Linked DNA regions of Homo sapiens: region 1 is linked to region 2. The links come from fine-mapping of genetic effects on gene expression. A gene starts in region 2. The other region holds a variant in brackets. All regions are shown on one strand. Distances are between the middles of the regions.

What was found. PIP is the estimated chance that this variant, and not a neighbour inherited with it, causes the effect.
Region 1: its variant is fine-mapped to the expression of RNF157-AS1 in whole blood (INTERVAL, PIP above 0.99).

Annotation. Positions count from the first base shown.
Region 1 is chr17:76,548,088-76,556,410 of GRCh38, reverse strand. It overlaps a transcript of CYGB not described here and a transcript of PRCD not described here. Among named protein-coding and RNA genes, the nearest start is that of SNHG16, 5.5 kb to the left of the region's middle. The variant AT/T (reference allele first, on the strand shown) is at 3,528.
Region 2 is chr17:76,135,763-76,144,085 of GRCh38, reverse strand. It overlaps RNF157-AS1 (RNF157 antisense RNA 1), which reads right to left and starts at 3,530. Exons shown (of 8, transcript NR_040017.1): 1 at 3,406-3,530; 2 at 738-856. FOXJ1 (forkhead box J1) reads left to right here and starts at 2,841. Exons shown (of 3, transcript NM_001454.4): 1 at 2,841-2,972; 2 at 3,522-4,188; 3 at 5,966-7,753. The coding sequence starts at 3,691. The coding sequence ends at 6,733. It overlaps RNF157 (ring finger protein 157), which reads left to right. Exons shown (of 19, transcript NM_052916.3): 19 at 1-1,612. RefSeq lists silencers at 2,846-3,005, 3,684-3,753, 3,814-4,003 and enhancers at 4,415-5,074, 5,737-6,396, 6,397-7,058.

The DNA.
Region 1 (8,323 bases), 410 kb before region 2:
CCCAGGCTGGAATGCAATGGCACGATCTCGGCTCACGGCAACCTCCGCCTCCCAAGCTCAAGTGATTCTCCTGCCTCAGCCTCCTGAGTAGCTGGGATTACAGGCATGCGCCACCACGCCCAGCTAATTTTGTATTTTTAGTAGAGATGGGGTTTCTCCATGTTAGGCTGTTCTCAAACTCCTGACCTCAGGTGATCCACCCGTCTCAGCCTCCCAAAGTGCTGGGATTACAGGCGTGAGCCACCACGCCCAGCCTCTTTTTATTTTTATTTTTTTCTTTTTAATTTCTTAACAGTGCAGGGTTTGGTATTTACCTGCTATGCTCACAGTAAGTCTTCAGCAAATAATCATTAATTCATTCAGCAGTAATTCTGGCCATTAGGTTTCTCTACCTTACCCTTGAAGACACGTTATTTTGTGTAATACTGAAAGGAAGAATGTGTTCTATCCCTGCAAACATAGTTCCTTTCATTTGAGACTTACAGTGGGAATTCTAAGTGTGGAATTTCCCAAAAGCTGCTAGCGGGCTGGTGACCTACTGTAGACAAGATAGTAATGATAGCTAATACTTCATAGCACTTACCAGGTGCCATTCCCTATACTGGTTTCTGTACATGTATGAACTCGTTTAATCCTCACAATGCGATGAAGTACTACTGTCAGAGGCATTGGAACCAGAAAACTCCATCTTGAATAGGAGCTGGGTGAAACGAGGCTGAAACCTACTGGGCTGCATTCCCGGACGGTTAAGGCATTCTAAGTCACAGGATGAGACAGGAGGTCGGCACAAGATACAGGCCATAAAGACCTTGCTGATAAAACAGTTTGCAGTAAATAAGCCCACCAAAACCAAAACCAAGATGGCGATGAGAGTGACCTCTGGTCGTCCTCACTGCTACACTCCCACCAGCGCCATGACAGTTTACAAATGCCATGGCAACATCAGGAAGTTACCCTATGTGGTCTAAAAATGGGAGGCGTAAATAATCCACCCCTTGTTTAGGATATAATCAAGAAATAACCATAAAAATGGGCAACCAGCAGCCCTCAGGGCTGCTCTGTGGAGTAGCCTTTTTTTTTTTTTTTTTTTTGAGACAGAGTCTCGCTCTGTCACCCAGGCTGCAGTGGTGCTGCTGTCTCGGCTCACTGCAGCCTCCACCTCCTGGGTTCAAGCAATTCTCCTGCTTCAGCCTCCCGAGTAGCTGGATTACAGGCGCACGCCACCACGCCCGGCTAATTTTTGTATTTTTAGTAGCAACAGGGTTTCACCATGTTGGCCAGGCTGGTCTCGAACTCCTGACCTCAAGTGATCTGCCTGCCTCAGCCTCCCAAAGTGCTAGGATTATAGGCTTGAGCCACCATGCCTGGCCAAGTAGCCATTCTTTTATTCCTTTACTTTTCTAATAAACTTGCTTTCACTTTAGTCTATAGACATCCCAAATTCCTTCTTGCTCAAGATCCAAGAACCCTCTTTTGGGGTCTGGATCAGGACTCCTCTCCGGTAACACTATCACTGTCCCCATTTTACGGATAAGGAAACAGAAGCACTGGGAAATTCGGTAACTTGCCCAAATTCACATAACCAGTAACTGGCAGGGTCAGGGTTTGCTCCCAGCCTGTAGAATCCATGCTTTTACCGCTAATGAATAAGGTGACCTTATGTATAAGGACTTTTGTTTTCGGGGAGGAAGGGAGAAGGAAGAAGATTTTCATGTGTTTGTAGGGGTGGTTGGGGACAAAATCAGAAATGAGGTTGAAAGGGGGAACAATGGGCACCTGCTCTGCCATTTGAGCCACTTCGTGGCAGGAAGAGTGAGGATGGGAGGCTGCAGAGCTGATGTGTGGAAGATGGAGGCTCTGGGCTCTAGCAGGGCTGTATTGGGCCTGGATGCCACCCAGTGTATAGTGAGGGCCATTCTTTACAGCTCTTCACTCTGCCGCAGGCCACCAAGTTGCTTTCACACCTGACTGGACATCGCTTCCCCAACAGCAGGTTCATGGCAGATGGGGATGCCAGGGCAGCTGGGCAGTGGCCAAGAGGCTGGAGCGAAATACAATGAGAGGCCTTGTGCCGAGCACATGTAAAGTACACTGTGCAGCCAACCCAGAAATAACTAGGGGGACTTCAGAGAATGCATCAGAATTCCTGAATGAGCCGGCAAGGGCTCAGAGCTGTTGAGACTGAAATGTGGATGTTACTGTGATCTCATTTGCACTCATTGCTGGTGAGAGCTAGGACATTTGAGTTTTACCTACCGTGGAATTATTATACAGCCTTTATACCAGGCTAGTGCAGACCTCTATTTATTGACATGGAAAGAGTCACAGTCTAGTGACTCTTTACAAACAGGAAAGCAAAAGTCCCCAGCGCTTTTCAGGGACCCAGGCTCTGAGTACAAAGGGAAAATCCAGTCAGCTGGCCTGCTGTATTGGGGTGGTCACTGACAGCGTTTAAGACATGGTATCTGAAACCCACAGTAATAGAAAACAGTCTTTGGGCTGGTCGCAGTGGCTCATGCCTATAATCCCAACACTTTGGTTGGCCAAGGCAGGAGGATCACTTGAGCCCAGGAGTTCAAGACCAGCCTGAGCAACATAGGGAGACCCCCGTCTCTACCAATAAAAAATGAGAAACAGCCAGGTGTGGTGGCACATGCCTGTGGTCCCAGCTGGATGGGAGGCTGAGGTGGGAGGATTGCTGGGGCCCGTGAGATTGAGGCTGTGCAGTGAGCCATGACTTCATCACTGCCCTCCAGCCTGGATGACAGAGCAAGACCTTGTCTCAAAAAAATAAATACATAAAAATAAAACAGTCTTTAGAATATTGAGGTTAATTTCTCTACCCAGAAAGCAATCTTTAATTTTATTAATAAGAACACAAAAGAAGGTAGGTAGTATCCCAGACAGCCAACTGCTTACATTTGGAACGGTGGCAGCAGCGATATCACAGGAAGCACATCTGTGTGTCAGGCACTGTTAGTGGCCAGTCTCTTCCTCCGTCTGGTGAACCTAGGCTTCGTTCAGCTGCTGGGCAAGAGTCTGCTTCAGCGGGACAAGCCCCTCCCCAGCCCCCAGGGGCAAACCTTGATTCATCTGTACCAGACATGGTAAGTCTATTCCCTTTGCTGGAAATTGTTTTAGGAAAGGGTCTGTGATGCAATTCTGGCCAAGTTTAGGAAAGTTTTCCTGCTTTTAAAAACAACAGCCTCTCTTCTGGCTTTGGGACACTGAGAAGAAGTGATGCTGGGCCTGCTGGAGCCATCTTGCATCTGCGAGGCTTCCATTAAGTAGGAGCTGAAGGACTGCGATGGCAGAGTAGAGAGAAGAAAGAACATGAGTCCTCAGTGATGCTGCTGACCCGCAGAAACCGCCAGTCCCAACACCCCTGAACTTCAGACCTCGTTTTGATTCAGAGACACATTTATACATTTCATATATATATACACACACATATATATGTATACATGTATACATATATATACACATATACATGTTTTATATATATATATTTTTATATATATATATAT[AT/T]TTTTTTTTTTTTTTTTTGAGACAGAGCTTTGCTCTTGTCGCCCAGGCTGGAATGCAGTGGCATGATCTCAGCTCACTGCAACCTCTACCTCCTGGATTCATGTGATTCTCCTGCCTCAGCCTCCCAAGTAGCTGGGATTACAGGTGTGCACCATCACACCCAGCTAATTTTTGTATTTTTGGTAGAGACAGAGTTTCACCATTCTGGCCAGGCTGGTCTCGAACTCCTGACCTCAGGTAACCCACCCACTTCAGCCTCCCAAAGTGCTGGAATCACAAGCATGAGCCATCACAGCTGGTCGCATTTTCATATTCTAAAATGCAGGATGTGTCTTACAAGCAATGGCATCTCAGTTTGAGTGAATTACAAAATGTGAGATTTTAGGCTGGGTGCAGTGGCTCACGCCTGTAATCCCAGCACTTTGGGAGGCCGAGGAGGGTGGATCACGAGGTCAGGAGATTGAGACCATCCTGGCTAACACAGTGAAACCCCATCTCTACTAAAAATACAAAAAAAAAAATTAGCCAGGCGTGGTGGCGGGTGCCTGTAGTCCCAGCTACTCAGGAGGCTGAGGCAGGAGAATGGCTTGAACCCGGGAGGCAGAGCTTGCAGTGAGTGGAGATCGTACCACTGCACTCCAGCCTGGGCGACAGAGCGAGACTCCATCTCAAAAAAAATAAATAAATAAAAAGTGAGATTTTAAAAAGAAATCTTATTAAGTCATTTTAAGTTGGGTGTTCTGTTTCAGTCAAATCATCCTAAATGATATCTTTTAAAAATAATTCTTCCCAGAAGAATGGATCATGGCAGAATACAGAAAATGAGCTCATGTGTGCAAGCCTCCTTCCGGAAATCATAACAGCTATGTGTATATGAAGTGTTTACTCTGTGGCAGGTACTCTGGAAGCACCTTTTATTCACTGTCTCATCTGATTCTCATGACAGCCCTGTCATTATCCCCCACCCCCCCACCTTCCCATTTCACAGCTGAGGAAGTCAAGGTGCAGAAAGGTTAAAGGAACTCATAAGTGAAGGCACTGCGATCTGAACTCAAACAATCCAGCCTAAAAACCCATGGTCTCAGCCACCATGCCATGTTTCCTAAAAAAATTACGCTATGACAGTGGACCGTTTTTGCTTAACTCCAGAGACTTTAATTCACCCACCTAGAAAACCTGTCATGAAAATATAGAGGATTTTTTCCTGAGAGTTCTTAGGACCGTGAAACAGTGTCACAAATCCTGTTCAGAAAGCTGGGATCATGCAGATGACCAGGCAGATGGAAGAAAAGTAAAAATATAAAAATTTAAAAACCTGGGATCACTGCTTTAAGTTTCACCGAGCTTTAACTTTCTGGAAGAGGAGAAATATAACACAGACCCTACGCATTGAGAATAGATGGCGTTGGAGTTGTGGATTATCTGTGCTTGCCAACAGTGTACAGGAAAAAAAGCGATGCATTTGACTTCCCTGCTTGGCAGAGCCACTGCCTCTAGAGTATTACTCAAAAATTGATTTTTTAAAAATAAAAATAAATGAATTTGAAGACGATATAATGCTCCATGGATCTCTTCTGTTATTTCCTGGGCATGTCTCTCCATGCCCAGAAACCCTTGCCTTCTCACAGCTGTTGCATAACCTTTGCTTGTGGTGGTGTTTGTTCCTGTTGCCTTGAAAGTCCCTTCACTGCATTCTCTTCTCTGCTCTGCAAATTCCAGCTTGTACTTAAATACTTCCTGCGAAGTTTTGACTGAGACGCTGCAACAATTCCCGAGCTGTTTCATCGTGGCACCTTCCTGGTGGCAGGTGGATTAGCACATTGTCTGCAACCCAGGAGGACTTGGAGGAAAGTCCCAGCTCTGCTGATTCTAGCTGAGTAACCTTGGCAAAGGTCACCTCACTTCTCTCTGAGTCTTATTTTCTCATCTGTAAAATGAGGAGGAGGAGGAGGATCATCCAAACATCACGGGACTTCGTTAAATCAGTGCTTCGGGGCACTTAGCACAGCGCCTGGCGCAAGGTAAGCACTTGATAAATGGGAGTTCGTGTTATTTCAACATACTTTGAACACTCATCCCACTGTTTGATGATTATTTGTATGTCTGGCTTTTCTGCTAGATGGTGAGCAAAACAAGCATCATTCTTCATTCTTGTTTTGTTTCTAACTCTCTAAATCATCTTTATTCTCGTGTAACTTACATACAATACAGTATAACCATTTACAATGTATGGTTCAGTAGTCCAATAAGTGTATAGACCCATGTAACCACAATCCCAGTTAAGATTTAGAACACTGTTGTCACCTCAAAAGCACCTTCTTAGGCGGGTGCGGTGGCTCATGCCTGTAATCCCAGCACTTTGGGAGGCTGAGGCCGGTGGATCACCTGAGGTCAGGAGTTTGAGACCAGCCTGGCCAACGTGGCGAAACCCCGTCTCTACTAAAAATACAAAAAATTAGCTGGGCGTGGTGGTGGGCATCTGTAATCCCAGCTACTCAGGAGGCTGAGGCAGGAGAATCACTTGAACCTGGGAGGCGAGGTTGCAATGAGCCGAGATCGCACCATTGCACTCCAGCCTAGGTGATGAGAGCAAAACTCCATCTCAAAAAAAAAAAAAGAACCTTCTAGGCTGGGCACGGTGGCTCACACCTGTAATCCCACCACTTTGGGAGGCCGAGGCGGGTGGATCACTTGAGGTCAGGAGTTCAAGACCAGCCTGGCCAATATGATGAAACCCCGTCTCTACTAAAAATACAAACATCAGCTGGGCGTGGTAGTGTAAGCTGGTAGTCCCTACTACTCAGGAGGCTGAGGCAGGAGAATTGCTTGAACTCAGGAGGTGGAGGTTGCAGTGAGCCAAGATCATGCCACTGCACTCCAGCCTGGGTGACAAAGTGAGACTCCATCTCAAAAAAAAGAAAAAAAAACAAACAAAAAAACAAAAACCTTCTTACCCTTGCAGTCAACCCCCACAATATCTAACCCCGGCCCCAGTCAACCACTGATGCCTTCTGTCACTATCAGTCGGTTCTGCCTGTTCTAGAATTCCGTGTACATGTCATCATCACACAGTAGGGGCTCTTTTGTGTCTGGCTTCTCTCAATTTACCCATGTCGTCGGCATCAGCAGTTCATTTCCTTTTCATTGCTGAGTATTATTCTATCTTTATATATCTCAGTGTGTTTATCTGTTCCCACGTCGAGGAATATTTGGGTTGTTTCCAGTTTGGAGCTGTTAGTAATAAAGCTGCCATGAACATCTTTGCAGTCTTTTTTGTGGATGTAAGTTTTCATTCCTCTGGGATAACTTTATAAGGAACCACCATGCTGGTTTCCCAAGTGGTTGTAACACTTCACCAGTCCCCAGCCGTGTATGACAGGGTGACATCTTGGACAGTACTTACTATGGTCGGCCTTCAGCTGTAACCACTCTGGTAGGCATGTAGTGGTATGTCATTGGGCTTTTGATTTGCATGTGGAGTATCTTTCTTCTTTCCCAAAGTGCTGGTATTACAGGCGTGAGCCACCGCGCCCAGCCGCATGTCGAACAACTTTCTATGTATTTTAGCTGTATGTTTATTTTTTGTTGTAGTGTCTATTAAAATCTTTCCCCACTTTTTTATTGGGCCATCTTATTATCGAATTGTAAAAGTTCTTTATGTATTCCGGATACAAGTCCTTTCTCAGATTTTTGTTTGGCAAATATTTACTCCTAGTCTTTCCAAGAGCAGAGGTTTAATTTTGATAAAGTCCAGTGTATTGATTTTTCTTTTCTGGTTAGTGCTTTTTGTATCCTGTTGAAAGGACCTTTCTTTCTCCATTGGATTGCCTTTCTGCATCTGTTTTTGGATTCCATTGATCTGTGTGTATATCCTTATGAATCTCACACTGTCTTGACCTCTGATTCTGTCTCCTCCTCACCTTAGCAAAGCCACTGTGGTCCGCTTGGGTTTCCCCTCCCCAAGGCACAGTCAGGGAACTGTCTCCAGGCAGAAGCTGAGGCAGTCATGGGGTCACTGTCCTGTGTGCTGCCTGTTGTCAAGTGTCTGCTGCTTATATCTTGCCCAGTTTTCTGGTTGTTTGTGGCAGAAGGTCTTAATCCGTTTCTGGATCCACAGTGCCTGGCACACAGCACTCCAGACACAGTTCATTACAGTTGCTTTCGATTGGGAAAGTCGGTGGGGCCCCCAGAGAGCTTCTGGTCCATCCCCTTCATTTTACTAAACTGTTCTTTTCCTGAGGAGATCATTAGTCCTCTGCGTCCTCACTCCAGCCCACCTGGGCTTGACAAATGTTTATCAAATGAGGAAACCGAGGTCCAGAGAACTAAAGGTCACAGGGACAGGCAGGGTTGGGCTGGCAGAACTAGGCCACCGAGGCTGGGGCCTTCCTATAGGACCAACCAGCAGGGCAGGGTCTGTCTCTCCTCGAGTGTCACTCCTGACACCTGATACAGGGTTTGTACATTGCAGGTTCCCAGGACACGCTTGTTAAATAAATGACCAAATGAACACATTAATTTATTTTAATGCTTAGTTCAAATGGCTTCTGCCTCTGCATATGATACTGTGTGTATTTGTGTATGTGTATGTCTCTCTGTGTGTATGTATGTTTATGTGTATCTGTGTGTGTGACTGTGTGTATGTGTATGCTATGTGTGTCTATAAGTGTATATGTCTGTATGTGTGTAAATGTGTATGTGTCGGTGTATATGTGTGTGTGTATGTGTGAATGTGTATGTCTGTGTATGCATGTGTATCTGTGATTATGTGTGTGTGTTTCTGTGTGTCTGTTTT
Region 2 (8,323 bases):
CCCCTTTTGTTAATGGTTGAGAGAAATGTGGACCAGTGATTCTCAGTTTGGTGCCCAGGTCCCCAAAGGAAGTGATGGAGAGCCTTGAGCTAAGTTCAGGCAGCAGCATGTGGCCAGCAGCAGTGTGCTGGGAGCAGAGGTTGGAATCAGGGCTCAGGGCCTTCACTTCAAGGGCCCTCCCCAGCTACTCGGGAGGCTGAGGCAGGAGAATCGCTTGAACTCAGGAGGTGGAGGTTGCGGTGAGCCAAGATCGTGCCACTGCACTCCAGCCTGGGCTACAAGATTGAAAAGATCGAAACTCTGTCTCAAACAAAAAAAAAAAAATTCAAGGCTGTTTCCAAGGCAGCCTCAAAAAGAGCCTGGTGCCCAGGGGGTCCTTCGTTTCTGTGTGGCTGCAGAGGCCAGGAGTGCAGTGACTGTCTCACTGCCTAGTGGTTGTGGCTCACATCCTGCCCTGATGGAGAGGGGGGCCTGTCGTCCAACCCTCTCTGAAAAACTGCAGTAGACTTTACCATTTCAGGCCCCACCTAATGTTCTTTCCTTCCTTCCCCCTACATTCTTCCCGCCCCTTTCATAGTTAAGATGCATAAGCTGAGCAATAACCCCACTTCCTGATTTCCCTGAAATATGAGCCCAGAAGCAGCAGGTGACAGGGAGCTTCCCTTACCCTGGGGTGGTGGCACACAGACCACCTCCTGTCCTGTCCCCTGCAGGTAGTATTCACAGTGTGGTGTTACCTGGGAGGAGGGAGGAAGGAGCTGAGATGAAGGAGATTCAGGTAAACAGTAGCCACAGTGGCCAGGACCCCCTTCCTGAGGATCCCTGTCCTTCCTCGCAGCAGGTGCTTAGTCCTCTCCTAGGGAGAAGCACGGAAAGATTCCTCAAGGCCTCAGTCCCATGTCCAAGGCATACCTAGGTTAGAAATGTCCTTTACTTGTTTCTCAGTTACTATTTCTCCTCTTCCTCCCTCCCCCTGCCTTCTCTTGGCTGTCATTTAGCTCTCTGGCCCACAGAAATACTCCATCCAAGGAGCTGGTCCTCAGTCAGCCTGATGAGGACAGGTCAGTGGCCAACCCTTTTGCCCCAGTCCTTCATCTGGAGACAGTCACATAGTCACGTCAACAGTTCACCCAAAGAGAAGAGGTGGGGCCTGGCTTCTCCCACAGGGCACAGCCTAACTATGGAGACCCAGGGCTCCTTCCTGCTGCACTAGGCCTGTGCTCTCCCTATTGCCTTCAGGTGGTGTGATCCCGGCTTCCTCACAGAGCCCTTTTTTCCTTCTGCCCAGCTCCATCCCACCAGAGTTTCTACCCCCGCTGAGGCATCTCCTGGGCACAGACCACCACACTCTAAGCCGGCTGGCCTGGGAGTTAGGGTCCTGCCCACCTCACCTGGGAGTTGGGGTCCTGCCCACCTGGAGTTTAGCACGCTGGTCGCTCACTTTGCTTTGGTCTGCACACCTGGTGTGTGCATGTGTATACTGCTTGTGCCATCTGTGTACCCCTCTCCCTGGAGTACACTTGTGGTCACACTACAGTGGGGACATCAAGAATGCAATATTTATGGATTGCTGCATGATTCTTAAAAATGAATAAAACTGTTTACAAGGGAAGGAGAGCTAACTGCAAAGTGAGCTTATCTGTGAAAGTTTCTGTCTGACTTTCGCCAGCACTCTTTAATACTTTTACTCAAGAGGATCTGGAGTTGGAGGAGTGGGAGAGGCAAGGGCTAGGGAAAGGCATGTTGGCGGGGGAGTGATGCGCCATAGCCGGGCCTTCTTCATGGTCTGGGCACCAGCCTCCCCGACCCCGGCTCTCCAGCTCCTGGGCAGAGGCGGGGTAATCAACCCAGCCCCCACCACTGCCTCTGCAGCCGCCTTAAACCGGAGAACGTCCAACCCTGCAGCTCCTCAATAATTAAAGAGCAGGAAAGCTGGTGACAGGAGGGAGGCCAGGGGAAGGGAGGAGGAAGGGACACAGTCCCCAGAGTCCCTCTACTCTTAATCCCTGTGACTTAAAGGTTGGTGAAATTAATTGGGCAAATGACCCCGCTAGGAGAATTTGACAAGTCCATGACTTCAGAGTTTTACCCACGGGCTCTGCTTCATCAGCTGTCTCCAGAGGAGTGAGTGCGCTTCTGCAGAAGCCTCTGGAATGTCAGCTTCCTGGAACCTCGAGGATACGGGTGGGGAAGGAGCTGCTTACTGGGACACACTGGATTACCCTACCCCCTTGGTGTGTCTGCCGCCTCTGTGGATGTAAGCGGCAGGTGGCATCGGAAAGTCAGACCTGCCTGGGACACCAGAGAAAGACCCTAAGAGTCGGGGGAGAGGGAAAGGCTGCAGAAACATGAGAAAGTGCCACTCGTAGCGGAGAGGAAAGAAAACCTCAAGGATACGGTTCCCGAGCCTGAGCCCGCTCCCAGCCTTAGCCCCCCAACCCCAGGCTCCGTCCCAGGAGCAGTCGACGCCTCAAAGCGTACGGGACAGGAAGGGGGTGGGGGCGAGAGTCTTGGTTCCCCAGAACGAACGGATCCATAGCGGTTCCCGGTGCCGCAGGCCGCGCGCTTCTCCGACCCCAGCGCGGGGCCCTCGGGCGGGAATGAGCCGAGCCGGGACTTAGCGGCGGGTAGGGGGTTGGGTGGCGCGGGAGAGGGCGGCAGAAGGAGGGAGTTCGAAGAGAGTTGCCGCCAGGGAGAGTGGCAAGTGCCCGCGGTCTCCTTGGAGACGTGCTGGCCAATGGCAGAGGCGGAAGCTGTTTATGGGGGCGGAGCGTCGCCATGGCAGCAGGAGAAGCCTTTGGAGCGGCTACTTAATGCCGGTCCCGGGGCCGCGGTAGCTCAGAGAAGCGCCGTCGGGCGGGGGGGCGGCAAGAGGCGCTGGCAGGGCCCCCGAGCTGGGGGCAGAGAGCCGCAGGGGGTGGGAGCAACTTCTTCCAGAACCTTCCTCTGGCCCGGGCTGCGCTCTGAGCCAGGTAAGGGATGGGGAGGGCTGCAGGCCAGGGGGAAGGGTGGGCAACGGTACCAACCCGCTCTCTCATTCGTCCTTAACGGAAGTGGTGGGCCCAGGGACTGACATCGGAGAAGTCTGGGGGAAACTCGCCTCCTGCCCCCCGTTACTGTTCCGTCCCCTTCCTTCCCAATGATCCCCTATCATAATATTCCTTTTCAAGGATCAGAGGACCTCCACCGCCCCCGCCCCGTCGTACCGCCCTCCCAAACTTCTCGCCCCACTTCCATTTGTTGCGAGGAGGAAGGGGGTCCTGATTTCCTGCTCTTCGGGAGAAAAGGATAGCCTCGGATGCCCCTACCCTCTTCATTTGGCTAATAAAACCTCGAAGAGGAAAGGAAGAGGGAGGCAGATCTGATGGGGGTGGGACCCCAGGGCCTTGCTTCTGTTTCCCATACCTCGGCACTAAAAGATCCTCCCCAGCTGCGGGGATGATGTTAGAGAGGGCGTCCCCGTACACACACTGTCCCCTCGGGGGTGGGGTAGTGCTCAGCTCCCACCGTGGTCCTCGCAGGCACCACATACTTATTCGGAGGAGGCGCCCCCGGGGTCGCGAGATGGAAGCGCGCGTCCGGGAGGCCGTGTAACGGGAGCTGCGGGACTCAGCGGGCCAGAGAGCGCGGCGGGCCACCCCCGGCTCAGCCCGTGGATGCTGACCGCCCCCTCGGAGAGTCCCCGCAGACATGGCGGAGAGCTGGCTGCGCCTCTCGGGAGCCGGGCCGGCGGAGGAGGCCGGGCCGGAGGGCGGCCTGGAGGAGCCCGACGCCCTGGATGACAGCCTGACCAGCCTGCAGTGGCTGCAGGAATTCTCCATTCTCAACGCCAAGGCCCCCGCCCTGCCCCCGGGGGGCACCGACCCCCACGGCTACCACCAGGTGCCAGGTTCAGCGGCGCCCGGGTCCCCCCTGGCGGCCGACCCCGCCTGCCTGGGGCAGCCACACACGCCGGGCAAGCCCACGTCGTCGTGCACGTCGCGGAGCGCGCCCCCGGGGCTGCAGGCCCCACCCCCCGACGACGTGGACTACGCCACCAATCCGCACGTGAAGCCTCCCTACTCGTATGCCACGCTCATCTGCATGGCCATGCAGGCCAGCAAGGCCACCAAGATCACCCTGTCGGCCATCTACAAGTGGATCACGGACAACTTCTGCTACTTCCGCCACGCAGATCCCACCTGGCAGGTAGAGGAGGCACGGGCGGCGGCCGCTCCCTCCCCATTCCCTCCTCGCTCCCCACGCTGCACTGGATTCATATCCCAAATCTGCAGGCCAAGTAGGCTCTGCGGTGCGGCCAGCGCCCCAGAAGGGAGCCCTGCAAAGGAGCCCAGTTCTTGCAACTGCCCCTCCTTTGACTTCCAGAGAGAGAGAGAGAGAGAAGGGAGAATGTCCAGAGGTGGAGGGCTTTAGGGGTGCAGAGGCTGAGATTCAAGGGGAAATAACCTGCCATTCATCCAGCAGGCCCAGGCCAAAGACCAGGGCTAGACTCTGCGTGGACAGAATCTCCTTGGGGAGAGCGATGAACTGAAGGCGCATTCTTGTCCCAAGTCCTAGAATTCCTAGACACTGCCCTGCCCCGGGATGGTTTGTCGGGGCCGGGAGTCAGAAACGGAAACTGGAACGTGGCCTCCCTGCCAGGCTCTACGTCCTGCCCTTTTGCAGTTGGCTTGGGGAGGGTGGAATGGAAGGGGTGCCTTAGCATGTGAGGGCCAGGTGTGTCCCAATGGAGGGTGGAGGGGGTAAGGGGCCTTCCTAAAGCTGCTGTCCCAGCCCCCCACCTCAACCTCTGCTCAGTTTCCTGCCTCCAACCCCCGCTGTCAGCCAACCTCCCTGGGGGGACAATTACCTGAGCCAGGTGCCTTCCACTGGGGCTCTGCCTACCACACTCACTTCGTGTTCCACGTCTCTGGAACCAGGCACTGAGCAGCCAAGGGGCCCAGGCCACCATGTAAACATCCCAGCCTTGCTGCCGGGCATTATCCACCCACCTGCCCTGCCGTCCCAGCCCAGGACCCCTGTCCCCCAGCAGGCTTTGGACAAGATTAAGCACCTAAGAATGGACAAGGCAGGAGGATGGTGGATTTGAGGCTGGGTAGGCAGTGCCCTAAGAGTCTTCAGCCATCACCATCAAGGGCTAGTTGGAGTCAGGGGCCCCCCAAGGACGCCCAGACTCTTCCCTGAAGCACCCAAAGCGGGCAGGCCACAGGACCGCAGTCCCAAGCCATTTCCAATGCCCCTGACCCTAGAGCAGGGTCATTTGCAGCTGCACCGAAAAAGCAGAGACCCTCAGCCCCACCCTACCCTAAGCCTGTGCAGCTGCGCTTCGAGAAACGGGCCCCAGGAATGAGTGCTATGCTCTTAGCTCTTGGCTGGGTAATAATCAACTGAGCCTGGAGTGGGGGGAGGGGGCCGTGGGGGGTGAAGGCCCAGGCCAGCAGCCGGCTCAACAAACAAGGAAAGTCATCAGATCCCCCACCTCTCATCCCTGCGCGCTCTCTCTCTCTCTCCCCCTTCCTCTCCACTCTCGGCTGCCCAGCCCCCTCCCTGGACCCACTCACTCACAGAGAGGGCCAGCCAGGCCCAGGCAAAGGGAGACGGTGGTCCAGGCCCTGGGGGAGCCGAGGGCTTTGGCCAGAGGCTGTCAGCGGCAGGGTGAGGGAGGGAGGGCAGGCGACGGGGGTGGCACCGAGAGCCACCCTGCGGCTCAGAGCTCGGATGACTGAGCAGGCAGATATCCCGGCAACAGGGAACAAAAGCCTCCGACAGCACTCCGGGCTCCCAGTGCCCTGTGGCTGGTGTCCCAGAGCTGCAGCCGCCTGGGCAGACCAGTGTGTCTGTCCCCCCCTCCTCTCCCCTGCCAGAGAAAAGATGGGGGGTGCGCAGCAGCGCCAGGTGCCATTTCATCTCCCCGTCCCCACTGACCTAGCGGTTCCTCTCTCTCTTGCTCTCTCCCTGCACCCAGAATTCAATCCGCCACAACCTGTCTCTGAACAAGTGCTTCATCAAAGTGCCTCGGGAGAAGGACGAACCAGGCAAGGGGGGCTTCTGGCGCATTGACCCCCAGTACGCGGAGCGGCTACTGAGCGGCGCTTTCAAGAAGCGGCGACTGCCCCCTGTCCACATCCACCCAGCCTTTGCCCGCCAGGCCGCGCAGGAGCCCAGCGCTGTCCCCCGGGCCGGGCCGCTGACGGTGAATACCGAGGCCCAGCAGCTGCTGCGGGAGTTCGAGGAGGCCACCGGGGAGGCGGGCTGGGGTGCAGGCGAGGGCAGGCTGGGGCATAAGCGCAAACAGCCGCTGCCCAAGCGGGTGGCCAAGGTCCCGCGGCCCCCCAGCACCCTGCTGCCCACCCCGGAGGAGCAGGGTGAGCTGGAACCCCTCAAAGGCAACTTTGACTGGGAGGCCATCTTCGACGCCGGCACTCTGGGCGGGGAGCTGGGTGCACTGGAGGCCCTGGAGCTGAGCCCGCCTCTGAGCCCCGCCTCACACGTGGACGTGGACCTCACCATCCACGGCCGCCACATCGACTGCCCTGCCACCTGGGGGCCTTCGGTGGAGCAGGCTGCCGACAGCCTGGACTTCGATGAGACCTTCCTGGCCACATCCTTCCTGCAGCACCCCTGGGACGAGAGCGGCAGTGGCTGCCTGCCCCCGGAGCCCCTCTTTGAGGCTGGGGATGCCACCCTGGCCTCCGACCTGCAGGACTGGGCCAGCGTGGGGGCCTTCTTGTAAGAGGCCAGGCCCTGCCCCACCTCTGGACAGTGCCCAAGTCAGGGTCCAGAACTGCCCCCCAACACAGGTCCACAGACACCCCACCACCTAGGCAGGGGCTGGGCCAGGGCTCCAAGGCTTGCCCCAGAGGCCACATGGCCACCAGCCCCAGCTGCCATCAGATTCAAGCCCAGGAGGCTGAAAACGAGGGCCCAGGACCAGAATCGCTGCCTCCTCTCCCCAGCCCCACCTTGTACACACAGTGTTTCATTGCTCCGCGTCTTCCCAGCCCCAGAAACCGGCTAAAGGACCCTGCACCATGAGAGCCGAGGCCTGGAGGAGCCCGGGTCAGGCTGGGGAGGAACAGAACTGGGCCCTCCCAGAGCACCTCCGCTTCCCCCCTGCTTCCCCAGGTCTCTATCCAGAGAGAGTCCCCAGGTACAACAAATGCTAATTAGATGACAGCAAATTAACCCCCTGGAGGCTTCTCCTGGCAGAGCCTCCCTGGGGCCGGGGCAGGCTGTGGATGGGGCGGAGCAGGGCAGAAGATGGACTGGGGGAGGGGGCAGAGAGAGGAGACCAAAATGAGGTGGTGGCACAGGGTGGGGCAAGGAGATCCTCTCTAAGGCCTCTGGGGTCTTTGCCTGGCCCCATCCCTAGGGGGCGGGGAGGGGACGTAAATCCCTAATCTTTAAGCCCGACTTGAGGCTGAGAGCAGCTGGAAGTTTGGGTTTGGTGGTTTGGGGGCCGGGGCAGCCAAGCTGTATGGGGCAGGACAGACAGACTAATGTAGTGAGTGTAGCTGTAGCTGAGGCTTAACTGGGAGGGATGCCGAGCTTGCTGGAACTACTGGGACCAAGAAGCGGGGTACCCCACGCCCCTGCCTGCACTCCTCGGGGGCGTGGGGCGTGCCTTGCTCCACCCGGACTCCCTGGGCTGCGTCCCACATCCACCCTCCTGCCCCGTGGGGCAATTTAACCTTTTTCATGAAAGTTATTTACAATGAAAAGTTTTTAAAAATAAAATTTTTAAAAATCTAAATATGGACCTGCTCAAAACTTTCTTTGGGAACAGGTGAGGGCTCAGTGTTCTGGAGAGGCAGCGCTTCTCTTTGCTGGAGGGAGGGATGGCTGAGAGGAAGATGCGGGGGCACTTACGGCCTGCAAAGAGCACTAACCAACTCCCCATGACCTCAGCATCCCCGGGGAGGAAGGGGCTGAGGGGTGGCTCTCGGTTGTCCCCTGCAGCCTAGGCCTCAGTGCCTCCATCTGTGCAATGGGGAGACTGGGGTCCACAGCCCTGGGGGATCAGGAGACAAAGGGAGGAGGAGTGGCCTCAGTCCCCAGACCCAGGGAATCTCAAAGGCTAAGTGTGCCCTGGGCTCGGCCCCTGCTGTCCCCTACTGCGAGGGCCTGCCCGGGCCCGCCTGCCCCAGTCAGCCATCCCCGGCCTGGGCTGGTCTCCAGCACCTCCCTCGCTTGGTCCTCTCCTGGAGGGACCCAGCTCCAGGGCCCCCACTTGCCACACAACCTGGCCCAATGCAGGTTTGGAGAGGAGGAAGGCCACCAGGGAAGGGAGTGAGCTCAGACCCACCCCTCCCACCTACACTGG